Regions from separate parts of the Homo sapiens genome. Here regions 1 and 2 are each linked to region 3. Evidence: fine-mapped expression QTL. A gene starts in region 3. Each other region holds a variant in brackets. All regions are shown on one strand. Distances are from middle to middle.

Region 1 (2,852 bases), 40 kb before region 3:
GACCCATTAAAAAAATTAAATTGGACTTCATCAAAATAAAGGACTCCTCTTCAAAAGACACTATGTCACTACGCTAAAAGAATAAAACACAAGCCCCAGACTGAGAGAAAACATGCAAAACATATATCTGATAAATGATTTATATTCAGAATACATAAAACAATTCTTAAAACTCAATTTAAAAAACTTAAAAATGGGAAAAAGATTTCAATAGACACTTCACAAAAGATACACAGAGAGCAAATGAGGTTTTGAAAAGGTGCTCGTCAGACATGGTGGCTCACGTCTGTAATCCCAGCACTTTGGGAGGCTGAGGTGGGCAGATCGCTTGAGCCCAGGAGTTTGAGACCAGCGTGGACAACACACAGAAGCTCTGTCTCTACAAAAATTACAAACATTAGCCAGGTGTGGTGGTGTATCTGTAGTCCCAGCTACTCCAGAAGCTGAGGTGGGAGCATCACCTGAGCCCAGGAGTTCGAGGGTGTAGTAAGCCATGATGACGCCACTGCACTCCAGCCTGGGTGACAGAGCAAGACGCTGTCTTAAAAAAAAAAAAAAAGATGCTCAACATCACTGGTCACTAGGGAAAGGCAAATTAAAACCACAATAAAATTCCACTCATGATTATTTCAACGGCTATAACAAAAAAAAAGTTAAAGCTGACAATACCAAGTACTAGCAAAAATGTGGTGCAACTGGACTTTTCACACATTGATGGTGGAAATGCAAAACACTTTATCACTTTGGGAAACAATTCAGCAGTTTCTTATCATTCAGGTGTATTACTGAAAGTGTTCTGTAGTATAATTTTCAAAATGCCGTTGTTTAAAGGGGAAGAAGGGAAGAATCACATTCAGATTCAAGTAGATTGCTGCTAGGATAGCACAAGTAGGGAAAGCTATTCCTAAGCCTTTAGTTTGAAAAGCTTTGATGAAGATTCCATGAGCGTATAAAATGAAACCTAACATACTTGGGAGAGTAAAAAGAGAGTTGTAGTCAGGGGGAGATATTATACCCAGGACCCCCATATTCCTAATAGAGTAAAAGTCACCTATACCTTAATGAAACTAAGCAGCAGTTAGTAGCTAACCCTTAATGAGCACTTATGAAAAAATGCTCACCAGGCCAGACATGGTGGCTCACGCCTGTAATCTCAGCACTTTGGGAGGCTGAGGTGGGCAGATCGCTTGAGCCC[G/A]GGAGTTTGAGACCAGCCTGGACAACACGCAGAAGCTCTGTCTCTACAAAAATTACAAACATTAGCCAGGTGTGGTGGCACGTCCCTAGCAATGCACCAATTGATTCATAAACAGTTATCTCATTTAATCCTCCCAAAAGCTTGATAAAAGATTCTAGTGTTTTAAAATATGTCCAGGAGGCCGGGTGCAGTGGCTCACACCTGTAATCCCAGCACTTTGGGACACCGAGGCAGGTGGATCACAAGGTCAGGAGTTCAATACCAGCCTGACCAACATGGTGAAACCCCATCTCTACAAAAAATACAAAAATTAGCTGGGTGTGGTGGTATGTGCCTGTAATACCAGCTACTCAGGGGGCTGAGGCAGGAGAATCACTTGAACCCGGGAGGTGGAGGTTGTAGTGAACCAAGATCGCGCCACTGCACTCCAGCCTGGGAAACAGAGCCAGACTCCATCTCAAAAAAAAGAAAAAAAAAAAAAGTACATGAATTCTTTGATGTACTTCCTTTCAAGAGGTGGAGCCTAATTCTCTTCCCCTTGAATGTGGCCTGAACTGAGTTATGCACTTTTTTTTTTTTTGAGACAGAGTCCTGCTCTGCTTGCTCAGACCAGAGTACAGTGGCACAATCACCACTCACAGCAGCCTCAACCTACTGGGCTCTAGTGATCCTCCCATCTCAGCCATCCAAGTAGCTGGGACTACAGGCATGTACTACCATGCCTAGCTAATGTTTGTATTTTTTGTAGTGACAGAGTTTCTGCATGTTACCCAGGCTGGTCTCGAACTCCTGGGCACAAGCGATCTGTCCACCTTGGCCTCTCAAAGTGCTGATATTACAGCTGTGAGCCACCGCGCCTGGCTGAGTTATGCCCTTCTAATTAACAGAAGAAAACAAAAAATGATGGTATGGAACTTGGAACGCTAGGTCATAAAAGGTACTCTGTTCCTCTTTACTTGCTGTCTCCTGGATCACTCTGAGGAATGTTAGCTGCCATGTTGTAAGGGCAGTCAAGCAGCCTAGAGAGAGGCGTATGTGGCAAGAATTGAAGCTTCCTGCCAGAATCAGCAAAGAACTGAGGCTTTCTGCTAATAGTGATGTAAATGAGCTACCTTGGCAGATTTTCCAACCCAAGTCAAGCTTTCAGATGGCTATAGCCACGTGAAAGCCCTGAGCCAGAACTGCCAGCTAAGCTGCTCCTGAATTGCTGACCCATAGAAACTATGAGACAATAAATTTGTGTTGTTCTAGGTTGTTGAGTTTTGGGGTATTTGTGATACAGCAACACATTTTATTATTATTCCCATTTTACCCACAAGGAAAGTGAAATTCTAAGAGGTTCAGTAACTTGCCAAAGGTCACAGAGTTCATAATAGCTATACAGGTAGGTTCAAATCCAGGGACTCTTGACCCCAAGGCCCACAATATTAATCAGCACAGGGTTAACTATAATTTTTGGACAGCAACCAAACCCATCATATTTAGATTTTTAAAAAATTTAACTTGGGCCTATGAAGATTATTGTATGGTAATTCAATTTAACTCCACAAACCTCAAATTCAAAAACTTACCCACCACAATAAAGTTTCCACACTTAGATACACATGCTGAGGATTCAATTCGATCTCCCAAAATCTGTTCCCATTTTACCTTCCCA
Region 2 (2,500 bases), 59 kb before region 3:
TAAGTTCAAGAGACCTAAGAGAGTAGATTTTAAATGCTCTCACCATAAAAATGATAACTGTGAGGTTTTGTATATTTTAATTAGTTAGATTTAGCTATTTCACAATGTATACATATTTCAAAACAATGTTGTACATGACAAATACAGTTTGTCATGATAAATACATAGTTTATCATCTGTTAATTAAAAAGAAAATTTGTAGTGTGGCTGTGAACTTACTTTTTCCTTTTCCTTCAAAACAAAATCCAGTGGAGATCTCCGACTCGGCTCCCCCAGCGCCGCTGGTAAAAGAAGTCACCAAGAGGTTTTCCACCCCGGATGCTGCCCCCGTGTCAACAGAACCAGCCTGGCTGGCTTTGGCCAAAAGGAAAGCAAAGGCTTGGAGCGACTGTCCACAGATTATTAAGTAAAGAGTGACTCTCACCCATCCCTACTGCCAGTTATTGGCTCCTCTCTTGCCCTTTTTATTTATTTATTTTTTATATGGGGTAAAGAAATCAAGCTAGGGAAAAGAAGCATGTTTTATAGGCTCCAAAATAATGTTTAGAAACTGAACTGGTGGTGTTCATTGTAAAGAGTGGATTTGCACAACCCTAGGTCCTGGTGCCTCGAGCTCCTCCTAGTTCTCAAGAGAAAATTCCGTCCACAGGACCACATGAAGCAAAATCTCTAAGCTAAGAACTCGTGAGAGCCTGCCATGCCCATTTCATGGCCTTGCACACACACCCACCCACACACCATTCAGAACATGTACTTTTGCCAACCTTTGGTAATGGTTTTTTGATTCTATGCACTAATTTTCTTTGTCCAAAACATTTACTCTACCATATGTCTGGGAATGTTTATCCTTTCTACAGTAATGGTGAAAGGATCATATCTAGCTAAAAGCAAGAACACCCATTCTCCTGAATGCAGTGAGTAATTGGGAATCACAAGGAACATTCTGGCACCCAACTGTGCCCAT[C/G]TTAGTTTTCATGAGTTTTCCCCACTCTGAAGCTGTAACCCAGAAGGCACATCCATTCACATTTTTACCGCACTGTGGATTCATAGTGTGGGGCCCTGTTATTCCAATACCCTCCTTAAGGACATGTGAAGCATTTGGCCCAGTTGGCTCCCAGGGAACATTTTAATTTAATGTAGTGAAGAAAGACAATTCTAGATCAGAGCTACAAGTTCACTTTCTGTCTCTGAGAATCTCCATCTAGGGCAGTAGTTCTTATGATGTGTAGGCTCCCTCCTAGGGCCTACTCAATCAGAGCCTGTGGGGACTGGGCCAGGAATATGTATTCTGGCAAAAACTCTTCAGGTCAGTTCTGATAGATCCCAAAGGTTAAGAACTGTGAGAAACACTGATCCTAATGCAATCTAATTTTTCAGACTTCGAAGGGGAGGCTCATTCACTCAAAAAGCAACAGTGAGACAGGAAAAATAATAAAACAACCCCCCAAGCCAGCCATTTATTACAAGAAGCAACAGGTTATTGACATTACATGTTTGAAAATTCCCTTTGGTCTTTAGGGAAAATAAACAGGAAGCCAAGATTTGGAGCCTTTGTAATAAGGACTTCCTGCAGAAAGTCTTTTCTTTACTATAATTGAGTAATTCATATTTAGAGTCACATGTCCAGTAGCATTTCTAATTTTGAGCATTCACCTTGCTACCTTTAAAAAACATCTGAGTTTTAAGTGGCCTTTTTATCATCATACACATGTGCATACAAAGAAGGGACTTGGCAGTTTAAAAGCCACATATATTCACTTTTATTGCCCTAAATTTACATGAAACAGACATACTGGCAAACTCACATATTGCTGGTGCTAACCTTATATTTCATAGTGTTGGCATATTCCCCTTTTCTTAGATTCTTACTCCGAAATATAGGTACACATCCTTTGCTCTGTGCAGAGGGAATTACATCCTTTTTCCTCTCCTACAAAAACATGCTTTATTAAGTATCCATCATTACTTTCCTTTATGCTCGCTCAATATGCAATGTGCTGTTATTCTACCATGTACCTTAAATAAAGGATGATGGCAAAGTTATTTACCATGTAGAAACCATTTTCTTTCTAGAAACAATAGCTCAGCCTCACTGTAGCAGCTGGCATGTGTGGTCAAGTGGATAGTTGTACTCTTGCAAGTTGGATTTAATATCATATATACTGGACCTTCAGACTGTTAAAAATCAATGTAACCTTTTTTTATTGCTATGGCAAGCAATTAGTATTTCACTGCACGTCTTCCATACTAATGTTCATTTCTAAATCTTATATGTAGGCATTTGTTAGTTCCAATGATTTCCTCACTAATATAACACTTTTTAATGGGAATCTTTCCACCTACAGCCCTGGAATGATAATGCTACAGTAATTCTTCTGAATTGACTTTTTCTTTCATCCTGTCAGCTTTGGACAATATCCCAATTATGGCAGGGAACAGGTGGGGAACTAAGATCAGTTACAAAAAGTTGTAGATGTGTCAACTTTGTATTGGCTGGGAT
Region 3 (2,852 bases):
ATAAATATTAGCTCTTTTTAATGCACAAGATACAATTTTAAGCTTTCCTCAGACATACAATGATCATTATGTAAATATAAGGGAGGCTTTCTGCAGCAGGCGCTTAAATTATGAGGAATGAGTTCATTTCGCAACATACAGGTAGCGCAGAAGGGTACCTACACATCTATACGATAATTAAGATGTTTCTTTCCATTTTCCCAATGGTTGCTACAGACATTTAAGGTAAAATCCATTCTTCTTGTCTCAGGTTTTCATTTTCATTCATTGAATCACAAATAACATTCTCTGCAGTAGAGAATACTAAACTTATTAATGCCCAAATGTTTGAGACCTTAAAAAGGAAAAAAAGGCCGGGCGCGGTGGCTCACGCCTGTAATCCCAGCACTTTGGGAGGCCGAGGCGGGTGGATCATGAGGTCAGGAGATCGAGACCATCCTGGCTAACAAGGTGAAACCCCGTCTCTACTAAAAATACAAAAAATTAGCCGGGCGCGGTGGCGGGCGCCTGTAGTCCCAGCTACTCGGGAGGCTGAGGCAGGAGAATGGCGTCAACCCGGGAAGCGGAGCTTGCAGTGAGCCGAGATTGCGCCACTGCAGTCCGCAGTCCGGCCTGGGCGACAGAGCGAGACTCCGTCTCAAAAAAAAAAAAAAAAAAAAAAAGGAAAAAAAAAAGCAAACTCTGGTAAGCAGATTTTACATGTAAAAGGAATAAATTTACTTGCTACAACTGTAGAAGCTGCTATTTAGTCAACAAAGATCTTAAGAGTGTCAGCAAATTCAATTGCTATGGGGCCTCTCTCTAGGCCACTGGCTGTTTTAAAAATGGATAAATAATCTAGAAACTTTATTTTCCCAATTCCCCGGCTTCTAAATTTACGGTATGCAACGAGTAACAATGCAATTTACAGCTTCCTAAACATTTCTTCATTGCTCTTCGAAACCACTCTAGGGGGTAGCTGAGCGCGGAGCACACTTATTTCCATTTGAATGGAGGGGCGGAGGCTAGTGACGCAGGAGTGTACACACAGGTCAGGGTTAGTCTGCACCACACCAGCACGCCAGACCCCGATGTATCAAATCCGAGGTCAGGCAGTGGTCCTGAAGCTGAGCAAATGTATGTGGAAGCAGGCTCAGGCCTAGCGGCACTTCGCCTCCTTCACACAGACCCCCGCCGGACACCGCGCCCTGCCGCGACTCACTTAGCAAGTCTCGCGGATTAGGTTTGATCGCATTCGGCCCTTTCCCGGATAGCTCGTCGCGGATACTTCTCACAGCGAAGCAGCAGCTCCCAGAAGCCGTAAAGCTATCCCAGAGCGAGGCACCATACGTAAATCTTCCGCGTCGCTACGTGACGTCAGTGCGAGCGACCCCGGGCCGGCTGCGTGGAGCTGGCGCTGCCTCTCCTGAAGCCGAGGCGCTAACTTGAGTGAAGAGGTCTATAGGCTTTTTCACTTTTGGTTATCTGCTCAGGCGCTCCTTGGGGTCGCGCATGGTCTCGGACAGGGTTTGCAAGGACTTCGGAGCTAACCAGTTTGGAGCCATAACCCTTTCGTACTTGCCAAAAAACTCTGGGCAAGACTCTTGAATTTTGAGCCGCAGTATTCTCGTTCATAAGGTGAGAATAAAAACATCACCTAGGGTTGATGTGAAGAGAGATGAAATCATTGTGAAATAGGAGAGTTATTGCTTTCAACCAATGACATTTTCTGGAAACGTGCTGGAGATATGGCTGCAGCAGTGACGCCTGCAAACGACGTTCCTGTCATCATGATGCTGACATTTTAATTGGGAAGCAGATTGAAACGATAACTAAGGAATTTGACAGGAGCATTTAGTAGGACCTGTAAAGAAATTAAAGCAGGTCCGAGGTGGAGTTTTGTAAACTATATGCCTGAATAGAACTTTCTGTTTCCAAGGGAATTGTTACAGTTGGAGACATGTCAATTATTACAATAAGCGTCAAGGGCAATAACAGAGGTGTTTTAAAGCTACTGTCTGGTGGCAGAATAATCGGGATTTTTTTGTTTGGGGGGTTTTAGCCGGGGGAGGGACTGCGAAGACAGCTCTGCATCAAAACAGTACGTGAGAAAAAAGCATAGGACGCTCTCGCAGCCGTAGTTGTTGGTGACAAGAAACTGTGCTTCTAATCTAAGCAAAAAATATCTCCACATGCCAACTATACTTTTCCAAGATGTACCATGGACTACTCAAACTAACACAGCCTTATTTATGTATTTAGGTTGGAAGTGGGCAAAAGTGTATCTTGTCTATGTTTCTATGTTTCTACGTTGGGATGACACCATCATCCACCCAGCCAGACAGTTATCAACCTTCCCACTTTCTTAACCTCTTACATCCGATTAGACCCTATGTCCTCTAGTTCTCAGTCTTGAGACCAGCACCCAGCTGGCTACATCAGAATTGCCGGTGGTGATGTTTTAGAAGATTCCAAATTCCTGGACTCCATCCCCGGAGGTTCATCCCCTAGTTTTCTAGTGAGGGGCCTAGAACCTGCGTTTTTTAAGTGTCATGTTCATCGCCATTACTGCTACTTTAGTTCAGGTCTTCTTGGTCAGCTTTTTCCTAAAACGTTTTCAGTTTTGTTTGCCTCTGATTGACTCTGAATTGCTGCCAAAATGATGTTTTATTATTCCAGTATCATCATCCAACTCTCTGATATTAATGATACCTTTTTTAAAGTTTTTCTTCCCTTGCAGTATCTATTTCCCTCAAGTTTCCTTTTTTTTTCTTCTGTTGATTTTGTGCTCTATCTTTCACATTAGAGGCTTTCCTAGGATGTCTGGTGGTCCTTATCTGCTCATATGTAAGTGGGGGTATATTTAAAAGTTG

Alleles and levels. Alleles are on the strand shown, and positions count from the first base shown. SD is a standard deviation of normalised expression in the study named. Not every link is listed here.
With allele A in place of G in region 1, the expression in kidney cortex of the gene that starts at base 1,331 in region 3 is lower (moderate effect, 0.62 SD a copy in GTEx).

Evidence for each region. PIP is the estimated chance that this variant, and not a neighbour inherited with it, causes the effect.
Region 1: its variant is fine-mapped to the expression of AASDH in kidney cortex (GTEx, PIP 0.91).
Region 2: its variant is fine-mapped to the expression of AASDH in whole blood (TOPMed, PIP above 0.99).

The regions. Positions count from the first base shown.
Region 1 is chr4:56,346,497-56,349,348 of GRCh38, forward strand. AASDH (aminoadipate-semialdehyde dehydrogenase) reads right to left here. Exons shown (of 15, transcript NM_181806.4): 11 at 2,767-2,852. Among named protein-coding and RNA genes, the nearest start is that of AASDH, 40 kb to the right of the region's middle. The variant G/A (reference allele first, on the strand shown) is at 1,196.
Region 2 is chr4:56,327,395-56,329,894 of GRCh38, forward strand. CRACD (capping protein inhibiting regulator of actin dynamics) reads left to right here. Exons shown (of 11, transcript NM_001393381.1): 11 at 250-2,500. The coding sequence ends at 410. Among named protein-coding and RNA genes, the nearest start is that of AASDH, 59 kb to the right of the region's middle. The variant C/G (reference allele first, on the strand shown) is at 965.
Region 3 is chr4:56,386,161-56,389,012 of GRCh38, forward strand. AASDH (aminoadipate-semialdehyde dehydrogenase) reads right to left here and starts at 1,331. Exons shown (of 15, transcript NM_181806.4): 1 at 1,202-1,331. RefSeq lists enhancers at 749-1,256, 1,226-1,595, 1,257-1,763, 1,626-1,675.